Linked DNA regions of Homo sapiens. The protein of the gene in region 1 interacts with the protein of each later gene in a pairwise test. Each region holds a gene or a part of one and is shown in the gene's direction. Other genes may lie near its edges.

Region 1 (7,031 bases):
CAGTTTACCAGCAGCCCCAGCAGCAGCCGGTGGCCCAGTCCTATGGTGGCTACAAGGAGCCTGCAGCCCCAGTCTCCATACAGCGCAGCGCCCCAGGTGGTGGCGGGGTGAGTAACCCTGGCCGGAGGGGAGAGGCCAGAGGCAGGGGGTCCTTCGGGAAGGCTTGGACACAGCTCATGGATTCTCCTGACCTTTGCACCCACCCTCTGTTGTGTGTGATGATAAGGATCTCAGCCTTGTGAGCAGAGAGGAAATTGGTTGGCGTAGTGGGCAGAGGCTGGCTGGGACTGGGGCCCTGCGTTCCAGCCCTGGTGTACCATGGGCAGGTTGCTCACCCTGCTTTGGGTGGGGTTTCCTTACCCCAGCTACCTGGGAACACACAAGGCAACTTTCTGCATGGGGCCTTCCAGCACTGGGCGCTGCTCTCCTCGCTTCATGAGGATGGCCCCCACATCCTTCAGCTCTCAGGCTGCCCCTGCCTCTGAGGGGCCTCCCCAGCCATGTCGTGTAAAGCGCATCACCCTGATGCTTTGCATCACTCGACTCCGCTGGCTGCCTTCAGAGCACTTTTTCCAACTAAAAAGAGCTCTTCGTGTTGGTCACCTTCTCTGTGTCCCCTGCTGGGCTGGGGACCCTGGCAGCGTCCGTCTGGTTCACCTACTCTGAGCCAGGCCTAGAGCAAGTGAATAAGCCCAGCAGGAATGGGGTGAGATCAGGCTTCCTGAGCCCTCAGAGCTGAAGTCCCGGCTCTGTAAGTCCTGCCACTCACTCCACCCATGGGTGCCGCTGAGCCACCCTTACCAAGCTCCTGGCAGGCTCAGCGCCTCCAGGCTGGGTGCCTGGGAATTCAAAGTAGCTCACGTAGGAGCAGAACAGATACTTAGAGAGATAAAATCGCCTGAGATAATGGCTGGCTGGAGTCTGATGCTCTGGGCACACAAACAAAGGGATGTTAGGACTGCCCAGGGCACTGTGGGCGCAAGAGTTAGTCTGAAGTATAAGGTTCCAGGCAGCCCAGCCAGTCCCTCCCTCCTCAATGGGTCTGTCCTGGATGTGTAGGGTCCATCTCTGAATATAAAGCCACCTCTCTGCCCTCTGGGGGCTTACATTCCAGTCAGGGGGACAAACAAGAAAACAATAAGAAAATAGGTGTATAACATAAGGTCAGCGGTGACACGCTGTGAAGAGAAAGACAGCAGGGTGAGGGATGGATAGAAAGCAGCTGGATTAAGACATTTGGCCGGGGGTGGTGGCTCACGCCTGTAATCCCAGCACTTTGGGAGGCCAAGGCGGGCAGGTCACTTGAGGTCAGGAGTTCGAGATCAGCCTGGCCAACATGGTGAAACCCCCTGTCTACCAAAAATACAAAAATTAGCCAGGTGTGGTGGTGTATGCCTGTAACCTGTAATCCCAGCTACTCGGGAGGCTGAGGCAGTAGAATTGCTTGAACCCGAGAGGCAGAGGTTGCAGTGAGCCAAGATTGCACTATTGCACTCCAGCCTGGGTGACAGAGCAATATCTCCAAAGAAAAAAGACATTTGGCCGGGTGCGATGGCTCACACCTGTAATCCCAGCACTTTGGGAGGCCAAAGTGGGCAGATCACCTGAGGTCAGGAGTTCGAAACCAGCCTGGCCAACATGGTGAAACCCTGTCTCTACTAAAAATATAAAATTAGCTCGGCATGGTGGTGCATGTTCATAATCCCAGCTACTCGGGAGGCTGAGGCAGGAGAATTGCTTGAACCTGGGAGGTGGAGGTTGCAGTGAGCCGAGATCACGCCATTTGCACTCCAGCCTGGGCAGCAAGAGCAAAACTCCAGCTAGAAAAAAAAAAAGAAAAAAAAGACGTGACATTTGAGCAAAGTCCTCAATAAAGGAAGGAGTGAGCCGTGCAACGAGGACAGGAAGTGCAAAGGCTCTGAGGCAGGAATATTCTAGGAAAGTTCAGGGAGCAGCAGGAAGCCCGAATTGACTAGAGTGGGAGAGGGTGGGAGGTCCGATTATGCAGGGACTTGTGGGCCCCAGGAAGGCCTCTGTGACCTGTGATCTGTGCAGAGCGACATAGGTTTTTGGAAGACCACCCTGGCAGCTGTGTTGAGAAGAGGCAGTGGTTTGAGGGTAGAAGCAGGGAGACCGTCAGGAGGCTGTTGCAGGATATAGGCATGGATGGGAGTGGCTCAGCCCAAGATAGAGGCAGAATTGGTGATGAGAGAGACTGAGGTTACTTCATGGGAGGTGTGACTTCTTATCCCATAGACCTGTTGGTTTCAAACTGTCCTGTGGAGCCTCAGAGACCAGTCAAGGGCAGTGAAGGTCAGGGGAGGTAGAATGTTGTCTATAGCTATAGGATTTATTTTTCTTTTTTTTTTCCTCTTTCTTTTTTTAAACTCCATCCTGGTAGTAGGTGGCGCTGTAGGTTTTTGTGTGCCTTACTGAACATTACCTAGATCTAGGGCTTAAGCGGCAGATTTTGGCTGAGGCTTGGAAGGTGGAACCTGATAGACTCGTCTTCTGTCCTCTGAAGATTTTTCTCCCAAGGAAAGATCTTTGTCCTGAACTTGGACAGGACTCATCATGGCTTCTAAAAGAAACTACTGGTGCTTATAATCATACAAATAATAGCATACAGGGCATGTTTTTTCTGTTTTTTTTTTCTTTTTTGAGACAGGGTCTTGCTCTGCTGCCCAGGCTGGAGTGCAGCAGTGGTGCAATCACAGCTAGCTCACTGCAGCCTTAACCTCCTGGGTTGAAGCCATCCTCCCACCTCAGCCTCCTGAGTAGCTGAGACTACAGGCATGTACCACTAAGCCTAACTAATTTTTTATTTTTTGTTGAGATGGGCTCACGCTAGTACTTTGGGAGGCCGAGGCGAGCGGATCACTTGAGACCAGGAGTTTGAGACCATCGTAGCCAACATGATGAAACCCTGTCTCTACAAAAAAGTACAAAAATTAGCCGGGCATGGTGGTACACGCTTATAGTCCCAGCTACTTGGGAGGCTGAGGCAGGAGAATCGCTTGAACCCGGGAGGCGGATGTTGCAGTGAGCCAAGATCACACCATTGCACTCCAGCTTGGGTGACAAAGCAAGACTCCATCTCAAAAAAAAAAAAAAAAAGAGGGAGTTGGGGGGTCTTACTGTGTTTCCCAGGCTGATTTCAAACTTCTGGGCTCAAGCAGTTCTCCTGCCTTGGCCTCCCACAGTGCTGGGATTACAGGCGTGAGCCACTGCACCTGGCCTGCATGTCGTATTTTTAGACATTACTCTGTCATCATGGCTGGTGGACCTTACTGCAGTCCTGTTCAGGGAGGTGGGGCAGAGCTGATGTGACCCGGTCCCTGCTCTGCCTCTGGCCCTTAGTAGCTGCCAAAGGTTGTAAAAGATCGATTGCTCTCAGAAAGCAAGACACAGAGGTTAAGAATCTTTGCAGCAGAGCCTGGTGCTCCATTTCTGAGTTCACTGCTCCCCCAGGCTCTGCTCCAGGGTCGTGGAGAGTTAGAAAAAAATGCTCAGACCCAGGTGAGCCGGCATGCAGGGCCCTAGGCTGACCACACTTCCCCCACAGAAGCGGTACCGCGCGGTGTATGACTACAGCGCCGCCGACGAGGACGAGGTCTCCTTCCAGGACGGGGACACCATCGTCAACGTGCAGCAGATCGACGACGGCTGGATGTACGGGACGGTGGAGCGCACCGGCGACACGGGGATGCTGCCGGCCAACTACGTGGAGGCCATCTGAACCCGCAGCGCCCCCATCTGTCTTCAGCACATTCCACGGCATCGCATCCGTCCTGGGCGTGACCCGTCCATTCTTCAGTGTCTCTGTTTTTTAAAACCTGCGACAGCTTGTGATTCCTACCCCTCTTCCAGCTTCTTTTGCCAACTGAAGCCTTCTTCTGCCACTTCTGCGGGCTCCCTCCTCTGGCAGGCTTCCCCCTTGATCGACTTCTTGGTTTTCTCTCTGGATGGAACGGGCATGGGCCTCTCTGGGGGAGGCAGGGCTGGAATGGGAGACCTGTTGGCCTGTGGGCCTCACCTGCCCCTCTGTTCTCTCCCCTCACATCCTCCTGCCCAGCTCCTCACATACCCACACATTCCAGGGCTGGGGTGAGCCTGACTGCCAGGACCCCAGGTCAGGGGCTCCCTACATTCCCCAGAGTGGGATCCACTTCTTGGTTCCTGGGATGGCGATGGGGACTCTGCCGCTGTGTAGGGACCAGTGGGATGGGCTCTACCTCTCTTTCTCAAAGAGGGGGCTCTGCCCACCTGGGGTCTCTCTCCCTACCTCCCTCCTCAGGGGCAACAACAGGAGAATGGGGTTCCTGCTGTGGGGCGAATTCATCCCCTCCCCGCGCGTTCCTTCGCACACTGTGATTTTGCCCTCCTGCCCACGCAGACCTGCAGCGGGCAAAGAGCTCCCGAGGAAGCACAGCTTGGGTCAGGTTCTTGCCTTTCTTAATTTTAGGGACAGCTACCGGAAGGAGGGGAACAAGGAGTTCTCTTCCGCAGCCCCTTTCCCCACGCCCACCCCCAGTCTCCAGGGACCCTTGCCTGCCTCCTAGGCTGGAAGCCATGGTCCCGAAGTGTAGGGCAAGGGTGCCTCAGGACCTTTTGGTCTTCAGCCTCCCTCAGCCCCCAGGATCTGGGTTAGGTGGCCGCTCCTCCCTGCTCCTCATGGGAAGATGTCTCAGAGCCTTCCATGACCTCCCCTCCCCAGCCCAATGCCAAGTGGACTTGGAGCTGCACAAAGTCAGCAGGGACCACTAAATCTCCAAGACCTGGTGTGCGGAGGCAGGAGCATGTATGTCTGCAGGTGTCTGACACGCAAGTGTGTGAGTGTGAGTGTGAGAGATGGGGCGGGGGTGTGTCTGTAGGTGTCTCTGGGCCTGTGTGTGGGTGGGGTTATGTGAGGGTATGAAGAGCTGTCTTCCCCTGAGAGTTTCCTCAGAACCCACAGTGAGAGGGGAGGGCTCCTGGGGCAGAGAAGTTCCTTAGGTTTTCTTTGGAATGAAATTCCTCCTTCCCCCCATCTCTGAGTGGAGGAAGCCCACCAATCTGCCCTTTGCAGTGTGCAGGGTGGAAGGTAAGAGGTTGGTGTGGAGTTGGGGCTGCCATAGGGTCTGCAGCCTGCTGGGGCTAAGCGGTGGAGGAAGGCTCTGTCACTCCAGGCATATGTTTCCCCATCTCTGTCTGGGGCTACAGAATAGGGTGGCAGAAGTGTCACCCTGTGGGTGTCTCCCTCGGGGGCTCTTCCCCTAGACCTCCCCCTCACTTACATAAAGCTCCCTTGAAGCAAGAAAGAGGGTCCCAGGGCTGCAAAACTGGAAGCACAGCCTCGGGGATGGGGAGGGAAAGACGGTGCTATATCCAGTTCCTGCTCTCTGCTCATGGGTGGCTGTGACAACCCTGGCCTCACTTGATTCATCTCTGGTTTTCTTGCCACCCTCTGGGAGTCCCCATCCCATTTTCATCCTGAGCCCAACCAGGCCCTGCCATTGGCCTCTTGTCCCTTGGCACACTTGTACCCACAGGTGAGGGGCAGGACCTGAAGGTATTGGCCTGTTCAACAATCAGTCATCATGGGTGTTTTTGTCAACTGCTTGTTAATTGATTTGGGGATGTTTGCCCCGAATGAGAGGTTGAGGAAAAGACTGTGGGTGGGGAGGCCCTGCCTGACCCATCCCTTTTCCTTTCTGGCCCCAGCCTAGGTGGAGGCAAGTGGAATATCTTATATTGGGCGATTTGGGGGCTCGGGGAGGCAGAGAATCTCTTGGGAGTCTTGGGTGGCGCTGGTGCATTCTGTTTCCTCTTGATCTCAAAGCACAATGTGGATTTGGGGACCAAAGGTCAGGGACACATCCCCTTAGAGGACCTGAGTTTGGGAGAGTGGTGAGTGGAAGGGAGGAGCAGCAAGAAGCAGCCTGTTTTCACTCAGCTTAATTCTCCTTCCCAGATAAGGCAAGCCAGTCATGGAATCTTGCTGCAGGCCCTCCCTCTACTCTTCCTGTCCTAAAAATAGGGGCCGTTTTCTTACACACCCCCAGAGAGAGGAGGGACTGTCACACTGGTGCTGAGTGACCGGGGGCTGCTGGGCGTCTGTTCTTTACCAAAACCATCCATCCCTAGAAGAGCACAGAGCCCTGAGGGGCTGGGCTGGGCTGGGCTGAGCCCCTGGTCTTCTCTACAGTTCACAGAGGTCTTTCAGCTCATTTAATCCCAGGAAAGAGGCATCAAAGCTAGAATGTGAATATAACTTTTGTGGACCAATACTAAGAATAACAAGAAGCCCAGTGGTGAGGAAAGTGCGTTCTCCCAGCACTGCCTCCTGTTTTCTCCCTCTCATGTCCCTCCAGGGAAAATGACTTTATTGCTTAATTTCTGCCTTTCCCCCCTCACACATGCACTTTTGGGCCTTTTTTTATAGCTGGAAAAAACAAAATACCACCCTACAAACCTGTATTTAAAAAGAAACAGAAATGACCACGTGAAATTTGCCTCTGTCCAAACATTTCATCCGTGTGTATGTGTATGTGTGTGAGTGTGTGAAGCCGCCAGTTCATCTTTTTATATGGGGTTGTTGTCTCATTTTGGTCTGTTTTGGTCCCCTCCCTCGTGGGCTTGTGCTCGGGATCAAACCTTTCTGGCCTGTTATGATTCTGAACATTTGACTTGAACCACAAGTGAATCTTTCTCCTGGTGACTCAAATAAAAGTATAATTTTTACCTGCGGACTTGGTTTCCTCTCTGGCTCTGAGCTGCTGTTGTGTGTGTCTGTGTGTGGGTGTGTGTCTCTAGCTGTAAGGTGCTGCTGTGTGTGTGTGTGTCTAGCTGTAAGGTGCCACTGTGTGTGTGTGTGTGTGTGTGTCCTGTCTGCTTGGGGGCACTGGCCTGTGGCCCTCCTGGGACCTCTGCTGCCCCTCGGGGAGAGAATGACTTGTCTGGATGCCAAGGGGGAGTTTGCTGCTGTCTGTCAGGCCCTTGGCCCCTACTTCCTCCTTGCTGAGAACTCCCCACCAACCTACTTCTGGCTT
Region 2 (4,814 bases), on another chromosome or scaffold:
ACGAGGCACGTCAACACTGGTCTCACTCACATGGCAACCACCAGGGAAGCTGTGTGCAGGATGCCCTCTTTAGGTGGGACAAGACATTCTATTCGCCACAGTCCCCATCACTCCCTATCGCCTCCCTGACCCAGAGGCAAAGGGTCAGTTGTCATTTAGCATCTTATACCCAGCTCAGCCCCCGTTGTTTATGTGCCTGCCTGGTACCTGGGGGGATCCGGATTTGAGACTGTGCTCACAGCTCTTCTGGTTCTATGATCCTCTAGGCTTATTCCATGTGGCTAACGGTCATGATTCAAACATTCCATTTTCTCATGTTTGATGAATTCTGCATGTCTGAACTCCACTGTATCTAAACTAGGATGTGATGTCCCCATCATCTAGAAGTTCTACCTTGATCCCAGGTAGCTGAGTCCTGCCACACAGGCCCCTTCCCTGCAAATGAGTCAGGCAGGGCGCCTCCATTGAGAGGGCTGCTGGGAGTGGAGAAAGTGAAGAAAGTGAGACAGGAGGCCCCCGGTTGCATCTCCTCTGCCCCTCCCATCCCCTCCTCCAGTGTGGTCCCGGAACAGCAAGCCCGTGCACACCACCATCCTGAATCCCCACATCCACCTGATGGGCGACGAGTCAGCCTGCATCGCCTACATCCGCATCACGCAGTACCTGGACGCTGGCGGCATCCCACGCACCGCCCAGTCGGAGGAGACCCGTGTCTGGCACCGCCGGGATGGCAAATGGCAGATCGTCCACTTCCACAGATCTGGGGCGCCCTCCGTCCTGCCCCAGTAAGAATCCCTCCTTCCTGCCTCCCAGGGTAATGTAAAGGATGGGAGTGTTGCCCTGGAGGGGGTTACGTCGGGGAAGCTGCTGCCTTCAGCTCTGAAAGGCTGCAGAGTGGGGTGGGGAGACCCCAAGAAGGGGGCCAGGCCTGCAGGTCTGGGGGAAGAGCTGGGCAGGAGCCACCAGGGACCGCATGGACTCCATCTAAAGCGGCAGGGTGGGTGGGTTGCCCAAGCAGGAAACACCATGCCCTGAGAAGCACCCCGTGTGTGTCTTACAGCTGAGGGACCAGGCTGGGGTCGCTGCGTTGCTGTGCCGCAGAGATCCACTCTGTCCGTGGAGTGGAGCTGCTGGTTCTCCCAGGTGGATTTTGCTGGAATTCTCCCATGTCATCACCCCACCACCGTCACTTCTGTACCTGCATCAAGAAAACCTGCTTGTTCACAAAAGTCATCGCAACTTCAGAGCGAACGGCCACATCTCCCCACCTCTCACCCCCACCCTCTCCCCTGCCAGGCTGGGGCTTCCTCAGGCATGGGTGTCCACAGCACTGGCCCCCTCTCCCCAGCCTCAGCTGCTGTCCGCCTGATCTGTCTTGGGCTGTAGGCTAGAATGCCCGGGCTGGTGCCCACCAGGGGCTGGGGAGAAGGAGGGGTGGCATGATGAGGAAGGCAGCATCCGTCCGTCCCTCTCCCAGACCTCTCCTCTTCCAGTGTCCCCGGGGAAGGGCAGATGACACTCCCTTCCCCCTAAGCCAACCGCACTGAAGGAGTGGGGAGAAGAGCATACGCCAGGAGCCTCCTGCCTCAAAGTGCTCCCCTAAGTCTTCTTCCTCCTGTGCTGACCTCAGGGTGGTCTGACCCTTCCCTCGGTGTGGGGGATGTGGCCCTCTCAGGTGCCCCTACTTGCTTTCTGCTTCCTTCTGGTGAAGTCCACCTCCAACATTAACCTGCCCACCCCACCCCCGTCATCCCTGGAGAATTCCAGCTTTGTCGTATCTCAGAGAGGGAATCTAATTGTTTTTGGGGGGCAAAAGAAAGCAACGTTTAGGTATCACTTCTACTTGGACCGCATGCCTTTTTATAGCCAAATTTCTGTGTATTTCGTAAATGGATTTCGCGTTAATGGATATTTATGTAATAACTAGACTTCTCAGATTATTGTGAGAAGGGTCAGGTTGGAAGGGGTGTAGGAAGAGGGGTGAGGGGTAGTTTTTTTCTGTTCTAGTTTTTTTTTTTTTTTTTGTCATCTCTGAGGTGGACCTTGTCACCTGTGGTTATTGGGGCCAAGGTGGACTCAGCTCCGGGGAGAAGGGCCTCTCTGCCATTTCGGTCCCAAGGTGAGCTGACACAGGCGTTCCTTTTGGGACTGTGGAAGCATCAGATGCCAGCACTGACTCAGGAACAGCAAGTCAGGGCAGAGAGGAGGAGGGAGGCTGTCAGGATGGAAATACCTGGACTTTTCTTTGCTTCCCTCGCAAACTGGGGTCTTCTCTACCGAACTTCCCAGGATTTCATCTCACCATATCTGTGTGCCGCCCCCAGCACCCCCCACCCACCTCTGGGGGGCCCGTGAGCGTGTGTCTTCATTGCCTCTCTCCCCTTGGCGTCTGATGACCACAGCAAAGCACTGGGAATTTCTACTCTTCATGCCTCATCCTGCAGCCTCGGGTTCGCATTCTCTCTTTCTTTTCCTCTTTCCCTCTTTCCCTGGGATTGACTCTGAGTGGAATACCTTGGCACATCCACTAGGATCTACTGTCTGCACTGTTTTCTTTGCATGACTTTATACGCAGTAAGTATGTTGAAAACAAACAAAAAGAAGAAAACACTCAACAAAACCAATCTACATGTTTTGGACTAAAAAAAAAAATAGAGGTTGTATTCTCAGTGTCCGACTCGGAATTATGTTGCTGCCTCTCTGTGCTTTTGGCCTCTGTGTGGCCGTGTTTTGCCAGCATGAGATACTGTCCCCTCTGGAGGATTTTAGGGGAGGAAGAGCCACGTCCCCAGGGATTGGAGGAGGCTCCGGTACCCTCGACCCTCCTGGGTGTTGGTTGGAGCAGAACTGGTGAGGATGTTTGATCCGAGATTTTCTGAGCTCTCCCCAATCACCAGCTGTCTGCTGGGTTCTTTTCTCAAGTCCTGCTGCCCAGGCCCAGGTGAGACAGGCAACGCCAGGTCTGCAGGCCAGGAGAGATGCTGCCCAGGCCTCCTGGTTTCCAAGCTGGTCCATCACTGGCCTCTGTCCTTGGCAGAGACCTTGCTGCCCAGGCCCAGGGGCAGGCTCTTGGCCTGCCCCAGGCCCAGAGGGCTTCCCAGTAAGGCCCAGTGATCCCATTATCCCAGGGGCAAAACCACCTGTCCCCTTTTGAGCTGCCAGTTCCCTACAGCCATCCCCAGTCAAGGGTGAGGGTGTGGCCTTCACCAGGGGCTGCTGTAATTACCGAGCAAGGTCTGAGCTCTTCTTCAGCCTCAGTTCCCTCATTGGTTAAAAGGGTTCTTTGTTCCCATCCAGCCGATGAAGGAGCAAACGTCTGGCTATGTGAAGCCTAATTTACCTGCAGGAACTGGCAGGGATAGTCACTGGCTGGACTCCTGTTTACTTCTAGACCTGGTCAGGCTCCATCCCCTCCCCCACCTGCCCCTGATTCCCCTCGTCGGTGCCTGTCAACTGCTTTTCAGCAGTGGACTGCAGGGGAAAGAGCAGTGATTTGGGGTGAGTAGGCTTCAATTCCCAGCTCTGACCAGACTTGCTGTGTGACCTTGGGCAAGTTCCTTTCCCTCTTTGGAGCTTGGTTTCCCTGCCAGAGGAAACTGAGCTGGAGGAGCCTGAGGTCCTGCCTTTCATTGGCTGACACACCTCCTGTCCACTGTGTCACTCTCCAAGTGCCAGAGAAGTGGAGGCAGATCGCTACCCCAGGCTGAGATGGCCCCCACTGTGAAGGCCACGCCTGTGGGTGGGCAGCCACCTGGTGCCACCACAGGGCACCAGGGATGATCCTGATGTGGCAGGCAGGGGAGACTCACAGAAAAATCTGCCCAGAGCCTACCCTCACCAGACAAACTCTGTGCTCCTCCAAAACATCCTTTAGATGCAAAATAATAATAATAATAATAATAAATAAATAAATAAAAATCCAAACCCAAGTCAAAACCTTGGCTCCAGCATGAAAACACGTTTACAGGAAAGTGTTCTCCTGGGTTTGTGCCCACCATGGTGCGAATCCTGACCCAAGGCCTCCTGTCTCCCTTCAAAGGGAGACCCTTTTGGGGGATGAGTTTGCCAGACTCCCCGTGCTGGTTTCTTTGTTACTATTTGTTTGGGGTTTTGTTTTAGTTCTTTTTTTTTTTCTTTTCTTTTTTAAAAATATGTGGCTGTGAACTTGAATGAACACTGCTCAAACTTTCTGCTATTGGGGGGGGCGGGTGGGATGGGAAGAAGGGGCGTTTGTTTTATTCTTGGTGTTTTCAGTGCAATAAATAGCTACAAACTTCTGTGCACTCTGTGTGTCCCTGTCTTGGTCAAGCCCCTGAGCTGGGAGGTTTTTGTTAGTTTCCAGTTCCAGATCTGCCCCATGGCAAAATAAAAGTCCTGGTCTTCATTCTGATTGGACCAACTGTGGTCACATGCTCAAGGCTGAGCCAGTCACTGTGGGATTATGCCTGGACCACATGCCCCACCTGTAGAGCCAGGGATGGGGTCAGCTTTCTCCCAGGCACATGGGGGTACCCTCAACAAGAGCAAAGGGGTGGCTATGGGTTGCCTGAGCAGCCAAGAGCTAAAGCCTCTCTTGGGCCCTGGGGCAAGGTTCTTCTCCTCTGGGCCTCAGTTTCCCTGTACAATGTGGAGGTTATTCCACAAGTCCCCCACCCATTCTCTTCCCTCAGCCCAGCCTCACAGATGAGTGCTCAGGACTCACCATGCCAGAGAGTGCTTTAAAGAATGGGGAAGGGGAGGAAGGGTCTCTTTACCCATAAACATATGTCTGGACCTAGTGCCTGGGACACTTTGGTCCTTGGAGCCCGAGCTGC
Region 3 (7,031 bases), on another chromosome or scaffold:
TATTGGCATGTAACTTTAAGAACCACATAAATGTGTATTTTTGAAATAAAACGAATGTGTCTTGAATCCTTATACATTTTCTTACCAGTCCCATCTATTTTGTCTTTGATCCAAACTCCTAAATGTTTGTGCACACATTTCTCGGTGACAACGTTGGGAAACACAGCAACAGGACTTCATTATTCTGTTCCTTCCTGTCATTATGGAAACCAGCCATCAACCTATGGAGTGATGGCAGGTAAGAAAAGTTGTCTTTTACATGTTATTGAATTTGGGGACACTTAGATGGATTTTCTGGGCCTGAAAGAATTGTGATCAGAGTGTGACATGAAATTTGATTTCTTAACTTTGAAAATTACTGTTAAAAATCACCACTTCTTGTTTCCTGCTCTGTGACACCCACAGAGACCATAGGGGTTATACCTAATTTCCCTACTTACGTATCTCTGAACTGCTGTGCTTCTTGAGTTTGCTTTGTATGGTTTTTATTGAAATTCACTATCGTCAAACTGTTAGTTGTAACATGATGCTATTGGTAGGCTTACCTTCACTAAAAATATAGTAGCTACTAGACACGTGTGGCTATTTAAATTTAAATGTAAACTAGGTAAAATAAAACAAGATTTCAAATTCAGTTTCTCAGTTGCACTTGCTACATTTCAAGTGCTCTATAACCACATGTGGCTAGCGACTCCCATATCAGACAGCACAGGTTTACAGAACACCCCCCCTCATCATTATATTTCTTCTGGACCTTTGGTCCATAAACATAAATAAGACATTGATTGAAGCTAAGAGTGATTGGTAGGGGCTTTAGTGATAGCTGTTTCAGGCTTTAGCAGCCCTTTCTGAATTGCTTCTGAGTGAGTCTTAAGTGAGATTGAAATCATTGAAGTTACATACTTTTCTCCTATAGGTAAGTGAAGTATGACTGTATCAATTATGGCTACCTGCTTATTGATCCTTCTATAAAGGCATTGAAGCACAGTTTTTGAGGAATGCGTAGATCTGGCTTATGAGATCTATTCATCAAAAATTCTTGTTTAATTTCATGGCATGGCCACATAAGATTTTAATTGTTTTTAAAAAGTACACAGTTTTATTATGCGCAGGATTTTCATTTGTTGGTTTATTTTTAAGATAGCTTTAGGAGATATACCTAACGCTAAATGACAAGTTAATGGGTGCAGCGCACCAGCATGGCGCATGTATACATATGTAACTAACCTGCACATTGTACACATGTACCCTAAAACTTAAAGTATAATAATAATAAAAGAAAAGAAAAGAAATTCTTTGATATTTTATCTTTATTACTACAGCAGGAAAAGAATTCTTATTGATGACAAACTGTGTGAGTAAATGTGTGTGTGCGTGTGCATGGTGTGTGTGTATGTGTGTGATACTGAGGGAAAAACTGTGGATAAAGGAATCACTTATTAGGGAAATCTTTTCTAATTGACTTGTGTTTTGTTATGATACAGATAAGCAGTAAAAAAAAAAAACCGCAGACAAATATTGATTTATTCCTATAATTTTCAAGTAAAATGGAGCAAATAGTTTAATTTTAATTAAATTGTTTAACCTTTGATATCTCAAAATTTGTCCATGTAAGACTAAATAGAACATTAAAACTTTAAAATAATAATCCAGAAAAATATGAGCTTCTCCTACATTCTATCAAGCAACATTCTGAATAAACCAGTATCCTAACATTTATGGTTAAATGAAGACTGGTGTTCTTAACAATGACCTGTAAATCCTGACGTCTTTTTTTAAAAATTAAGAATTAAAGCCATATTTTTTCTTCCTCTCTGAAAATTGATTATTTATGATCAACATGCTTAATTAGTATTCATGGTTAATGAGAATAGCCCTCCTCAATGATGAACTACTGTCATTATAAAATAGTAAAATAAATGCGTTTAGCTACTGGAGGTGCGGGTGGATTGCTTTCTGTGGCCTTTACAGCATTTTGATTATGAGACAGGAAATGACAAACACATGCCACTGTTTCCTGGAGGAAAGACCTTACAGTTCATTTAGAGGAACTCCCAGGAACCAAGGTACATTGTTAGTTTCTCTCTTAACCCAGCACAGAGGCAGTCCCTGCCAGTTGATTGAGGTTGGCACCAAGATTAAAACCAGTCACAGAGCAGGGGCCAATAATCTCTGGCCCAAATACCTTCAGATAATTTTTGCTACCAACTCCCACCCTGCCTAATCAGAGAGGGCCACCACTGGCCTCGGGAGTTTGCAGCTGGCCTCAGAATTCTAACACCCTTACTGCTTCCAGGACTGGAGCCAATATGCCAATGTTCACATTGAGAGTGTTGGCAGCTCATGTCTTTCTGATACAAGTTTCCTCCAGCATGAACTCAGCAAACCCTCTTCCACGAACCTCTTCCTCATTTCAATTAAAATGTAAAGACCCCTGGAAGAGCCTTTCAAAATGATTCAAAACCCTGTCTTAGTGACATCAAGAGCAGAAGACTTACACCAAGGTCTGGAGCTATCACTGTGGTCTTAAGATTAAATATATTCTGTGACTGAAAGAAAAACTCACCATCACAAGCACAAAGATATTTGAATATTTTTGAGAGGGATTGTTAAATCCCTCTCAAAAATTTTGTTAAAATGTGATATGCTTTAAATGTCAGAATGTCTATATTGGGACATAATTCAGTATTAGCATTTGCTTCATGAGAGATTAGATCTTAGAGAATCTGAACTCTCCTGACTTTATCCCCAGTAAAGCTGCATAAATTGAGTTACAAAATACAGCAATTCAGAAATAAGAGAGAAAAGGTAAATAAGAGACAAATGTATAAAGTACACAATAGAAACCTTATTATGTCATCTGAATTTTCTGAGAAGTCTTAAGTCATTAATCAAATCAGCCCCTTGCACACAATCCACAGAAGTGTCTTAACAACAACAACGACACGGTGTCACATACTCTATATAAAAGTGAAGCTACAGGAAGAACTATATTTCTAAAATATGTGAAATTACTTTATTTTCATATGGTTATTTCATTACTCATACTCTGATGCTTACATTTAGTTTGAGCATTTCATTAAATTAATAACTCACAGGAAAAGAAGAGCTATAACTAATATTTTGTCAGGTTGGTAGGTAGAATTTTAATGATCAGATGAATCCACTGTACGTAATAGTCCAGGTGCAGGCAAAATAAAGAGAATGACTAATTGGGAGTAATGAATTATCCATGCCATTAACTAATTACTAACATTGTTCAAGTGATTAACACCTCTGAGTTCCAATCTCTTCATATCTACGTTGTGGTGGGTACTACAACTCTACTGGGGTTGAGTAGTAGCAAATTTGTGTCAGCTCAAAATGATTTCTCTTTTGCCCTTCTCTTCACGTACTCTTGCAGCTAAATTCCTTCTGTCCTTTCACTCCTGAGAACTTAGAGAATTCAAATCAACACCTTACAGTACAAATAATAGAAAACCTAGAATTACAGATGCTGTTCAAAGTCTCTCCTAGATAAACACAAAACAAAACAAAGTATCAAAAAAAAAGTTCTCAAAACTCTGACTCTTGGGTTTCTGAGATTGTTTCTGTTCTCCAGTATCTGAAGCAGAGTACAATTCAGGAAACAAGCTCAATGGGGGTTCACCCTTTCTGCTGTCCTGTGGAAACAGCAAATCAACCTCACTGTAATAAATGTTAAACCCACCATCTTTACATGATGTAGTGGCCAAACCAAGAAGTAGTGTGAAAGTCCTTGCTTTAAAAGTTAATTTCAAGGGGAAAACAAAACAAAACAAAACAAACAAACTTGTTTAAGTCCCAAACTCTTGGGACTTAAACAAGATGATGAGCATCCAATTCTTTTTCATGAGAAGTGGATATTAAAAGAAAAGATTGTTATGGCTGAAAATATTCTTGCTGCCTGGGCTAATACAGAAGAAAACGGAAATCAGCCTGGCAACTGACAGGGAGAAATAGTCTAGTCTATTTTTGGAACCCATCTTTTCATTTTTTGAAATTTGAAATTTTTTTTTCTTAATTTACTTCTTTTGTTTAGTTCTTTGTTTTATTTGGCCCTAAATTGTTCTGGTTGTAACAACTCTAAGGAAACAAGTAATTCTGAAGATCTTTTGCTTCCACATCGTGAAAGGTCTTTTGGTAGCAGTAACATGATGTATTTTCACTTCCAGACTAGGGGTTGGCAACCCTTTTCTGTAAAGAACCAGACAGTAAATATCTCAACCTTTCTAGTTTTTGTTGCAACTATTCAACCTGTCATTGTAGTAGGAAAGCAGTCACAGCCTGTGTGTAAAGAAATAGGCATTTCAAATTAAACTTAATTTACAAACACAGGCAATAGGCCCCAGTTGTACACGGATAGGATTTACCAATGCACAAGAGTGAAAAGATCACAGTGGAAGTTTATAATTTCCTTTGAATTTTTATGCCTAAGCAACAGAGGGGAATATATGGAAATATTCAGATACATGTTCCTGTGCATGTTACAAGCACAGCAGGGTGGCGTATTTTACTATGTCCCTCTGCTTCCCCTGTTTGTTTTTTTAAGGCATCAAGCCAGTAACGTGAGATGATGTTGTCAGCTAACCACATGCTGCAAAGATCAATTTGCCCCATGCTATGGTACATTGAGTCAGCGCCTAGTAAGGCATCCCTATCTCTGACCCCCATTGCCTGCTTTAAAAGATTTACCTCTGTTCTTCTCTCTCCTCTGTCACACAGAAATGCATACATAGCAATTTAGAAAGGCTCTGGTGAATTAATCTTCAATGTGAAAATGTATTTGGAACTACAGTGTGCAAACACTTCTGAGCTATGTGTGTGTGTGCTGTCCAGGCCTCAAGATAATTTTTCTTTATCCATGTTTCAGAAAATGTTGATGAGACCTCTGTCACACATGACTCACAACATCTTTTATCTTATTCCTACTTTTTGCAGTAATCTGGGTTTTAAAAAGATTTGAAAAACATATTGCTATACATATCATCCCAATCACTCTCCACACTCCCCCAAATGCAGGCTCAGATGCTAGAAACAGAGGTTCGTTTGGCTGTTCTTTTAAATTGTTGTGATGAAATTCTGTGTGAAGTTAGTTCCAGGAAATCTGTGACCTTGCAGATAATTGTAGATACTTTCATGCAATGAAAAATGAAAGTGAACCAGGTGCAGTGGCTCACAACTGTAATCCCAGCACTTTAGGAGGCCGAGGCAGGCAGATCACCTGAGGTCAGGAGTCCGAGAATAGCCTGGCCAATGTGGTGAAACCCTGTCTCTAAATAAAAAATTATAAATAAAAAATAAATTAAAAAATATAAAAATTAGCCGGGTGTGGTGGCAGGCACCTGTAGTCCCAGCTACTAGGGAGGCTGAGGCAGGAGAATTGCTTGAAGCTAGGAGGCATAGGTTTCAGTGAGCCGAGAGCACTCCAGCCTAGGGAACAAGAGCGAGACGCTGTGTCAAAAAAAAAAAAAAAAAAAAAGGGAAAGGGAAAAAAATAAAAAATGTATCACACATCACATTTTCCTTCTTGTTCTGGATGCCAAACCTTGGAGCATGGTATTTTCTGTGTACTTTTCATGGATTCCATTCAAATTTGTTTTCTGCGTGTCCACTTTCCCAGAGTACTTACAATGTATAAACTACCTTTCAATTTTTGTGGCTGGGTTCTGTGGCTTATACCTATAATTCTAGCACTACAGGAAGCTGTGGCTGGAGGATTGCTTGAAGCCAGGAGTTTTGAGACCAGCCTGGGCAACATAGTGAGATCCCGTCTGTGCAAAAAATTTAAAAAAGTAGATGAGCATGGCGGTGCATGCCTGTAGATTCTACTTAGGATGCTGAGGTGGGAGGATGGCTTGAGGCCAGAAATTTGAGATTGCAATGAGCTAAGATTTTACCACTGCACTCCAGTCTAGGAGACAGAGTGTGACCCCATCTCTAAAAATAAAGAATAAATAAGCAAACAAACAAATAAACAATTTTACGGAAACAGGGATGACACACTTTATATATATTTTATTGTAATATTTTTGTGGAACAGTGTTTGTTTAATATAGCCAAAGGTGTTTAAATGCAGAGAAAACCTTTTAAAGAGAAGTTATTTAATTTGCCTGAGTATAGACTGCCTGGAGAATGAACCGGGCAATGATTTTGATGTGGCTTACTGCAATGCTTATTAGACTTTAGTTCTGGTTTAAACTGCAAAGTTAATTCGTTGGGCACTGGAGGCAAGTTATTTACTTTCTTTCTACTTAAATTTCCTCCATTGTAAATTATGGGGAAAAATATATATCTTTCCTGACTCATTTTTTGTATAAGGATAAAGATGATAACAAATGTGAAATTAACACGACACAAAGTGTTGCATAGAAGATTTGTAGCAGTACATAATTATGATCAGCAAGAGAAATTGAAAATAATAATAATAATTGATAACAAATTTAGACCTTTTAGTATGCGTAAGTAAAAAACACACAAATTTTTTATATAAAATAAACATAATTTGACATAGGTTAAATGAGTTATCTAAAGTGTCTTAAAATATGTTAAATGTACAAAATCTAACAGTAGCCTGGCTTTTCTTTGTACTCTTTCTCAGGGTATTTTATCATTAAATGTATTAAGTGATACCTGATGGACCTAAATAATCAAAGAAGTGAAGGTTTTATAAATATATGTGAGAATCAATTCTGAAAGCATAAGCACAAAACAAGTCTTCAGATAAATATGAGATTAAATAAATGATAACATAAATGTCATCAATTTTCTTTTACATCTATTAGTCCTTCTTTTAATTTAGCAGAAAATTAAAATTAATAAAAAGCTAAAAATAAACCCCACGGCAATAAATATTTTCAAGAAAAGCTATATAATAAAAGAAAAGTTGGTAAAATTGCTTTTAAAAATGTTCTCTTGTCTGATCAAGATGCCACACAATAAAGCATAAAATGGATAGTTAACTGACTTTTACAAAAGTAAACCTGGATAATTTTGGTTTGTAAAAGTAGCAG

The links. Proteins that work in one complex are often made in the same cells at the same time.
Region 2: the proteins of LASP1 (region 1) and CAMK2A interact in binary tests that used the Homo sapiens proteins (3 or more experiments, as listed by UniProt).
Region 3: the proteins of LASP1 (region 1) and POU1F1 interact in binary tests that used the Homo sapiens proteins (3 or more experiments, as listed by UniProt).

What each region holds. Positions count from the first base shown.
Region 1 is NC_000017.11:38,915,040-38,922,070, forward strand, and holds the end of LASP1 (LIM and SH3 domain protein 1), read left to right. Parts: exon of another isoform or gene 1-3; coding exon 4-107; intron 108-3,565; coding exon 3,566-3,739; 3' UTR 3,740-6,731; downstream 6,732-7,031. UniProt on the Homo sapiens protein: Plays an important role in the regulation of dynamic actin-based, cytoskeletal activities.
Region 2 is NC_000005.10:150,218,960-150,223,773, reverse strand, and holds the end of CAMK2A (calcium/calmodulin-dependent protein kinase type II subunit alpha), read left to right. Parts: intron 1-556; coding exon 557-785; coding exon of another isoform or gene 786-789; exon of another isoform or gene 790-814; intron 815-1,060; coding exon 1,061-1,064; 3' UTR 1,065-4,283; downstream 4,284-4,814. UniProt on the Homo sapiens protein: Calcium/calmodulin-dependent protein kinase that functions autonomously after Ca(2+)/calmodulin-binding and autophosphorylation, and is involved in various processes, such as synaptic plasticity, neurotransmitter release and long-term potentiation.
Region 3 is NC_000003.12:87,266,554-87,273,584, reverse strand, and holds part of POU1F1 (pituitary-specific positive transcription factor 1), read left to right. Parts: intron 1-88; coding exon of another isoform or gene 89-166; coding exon 167-238; intron 239-7,031. UniProt on the Homo sapiens protein: Transcription factor involved in the specification of the lactotrope, somatotrope, and thyrotrope phenotypes in the developing anterior pituitary. Specifically binds to the consensus sequence 5'-TAAAT-3'. Activates growth hormone and prolactin genes.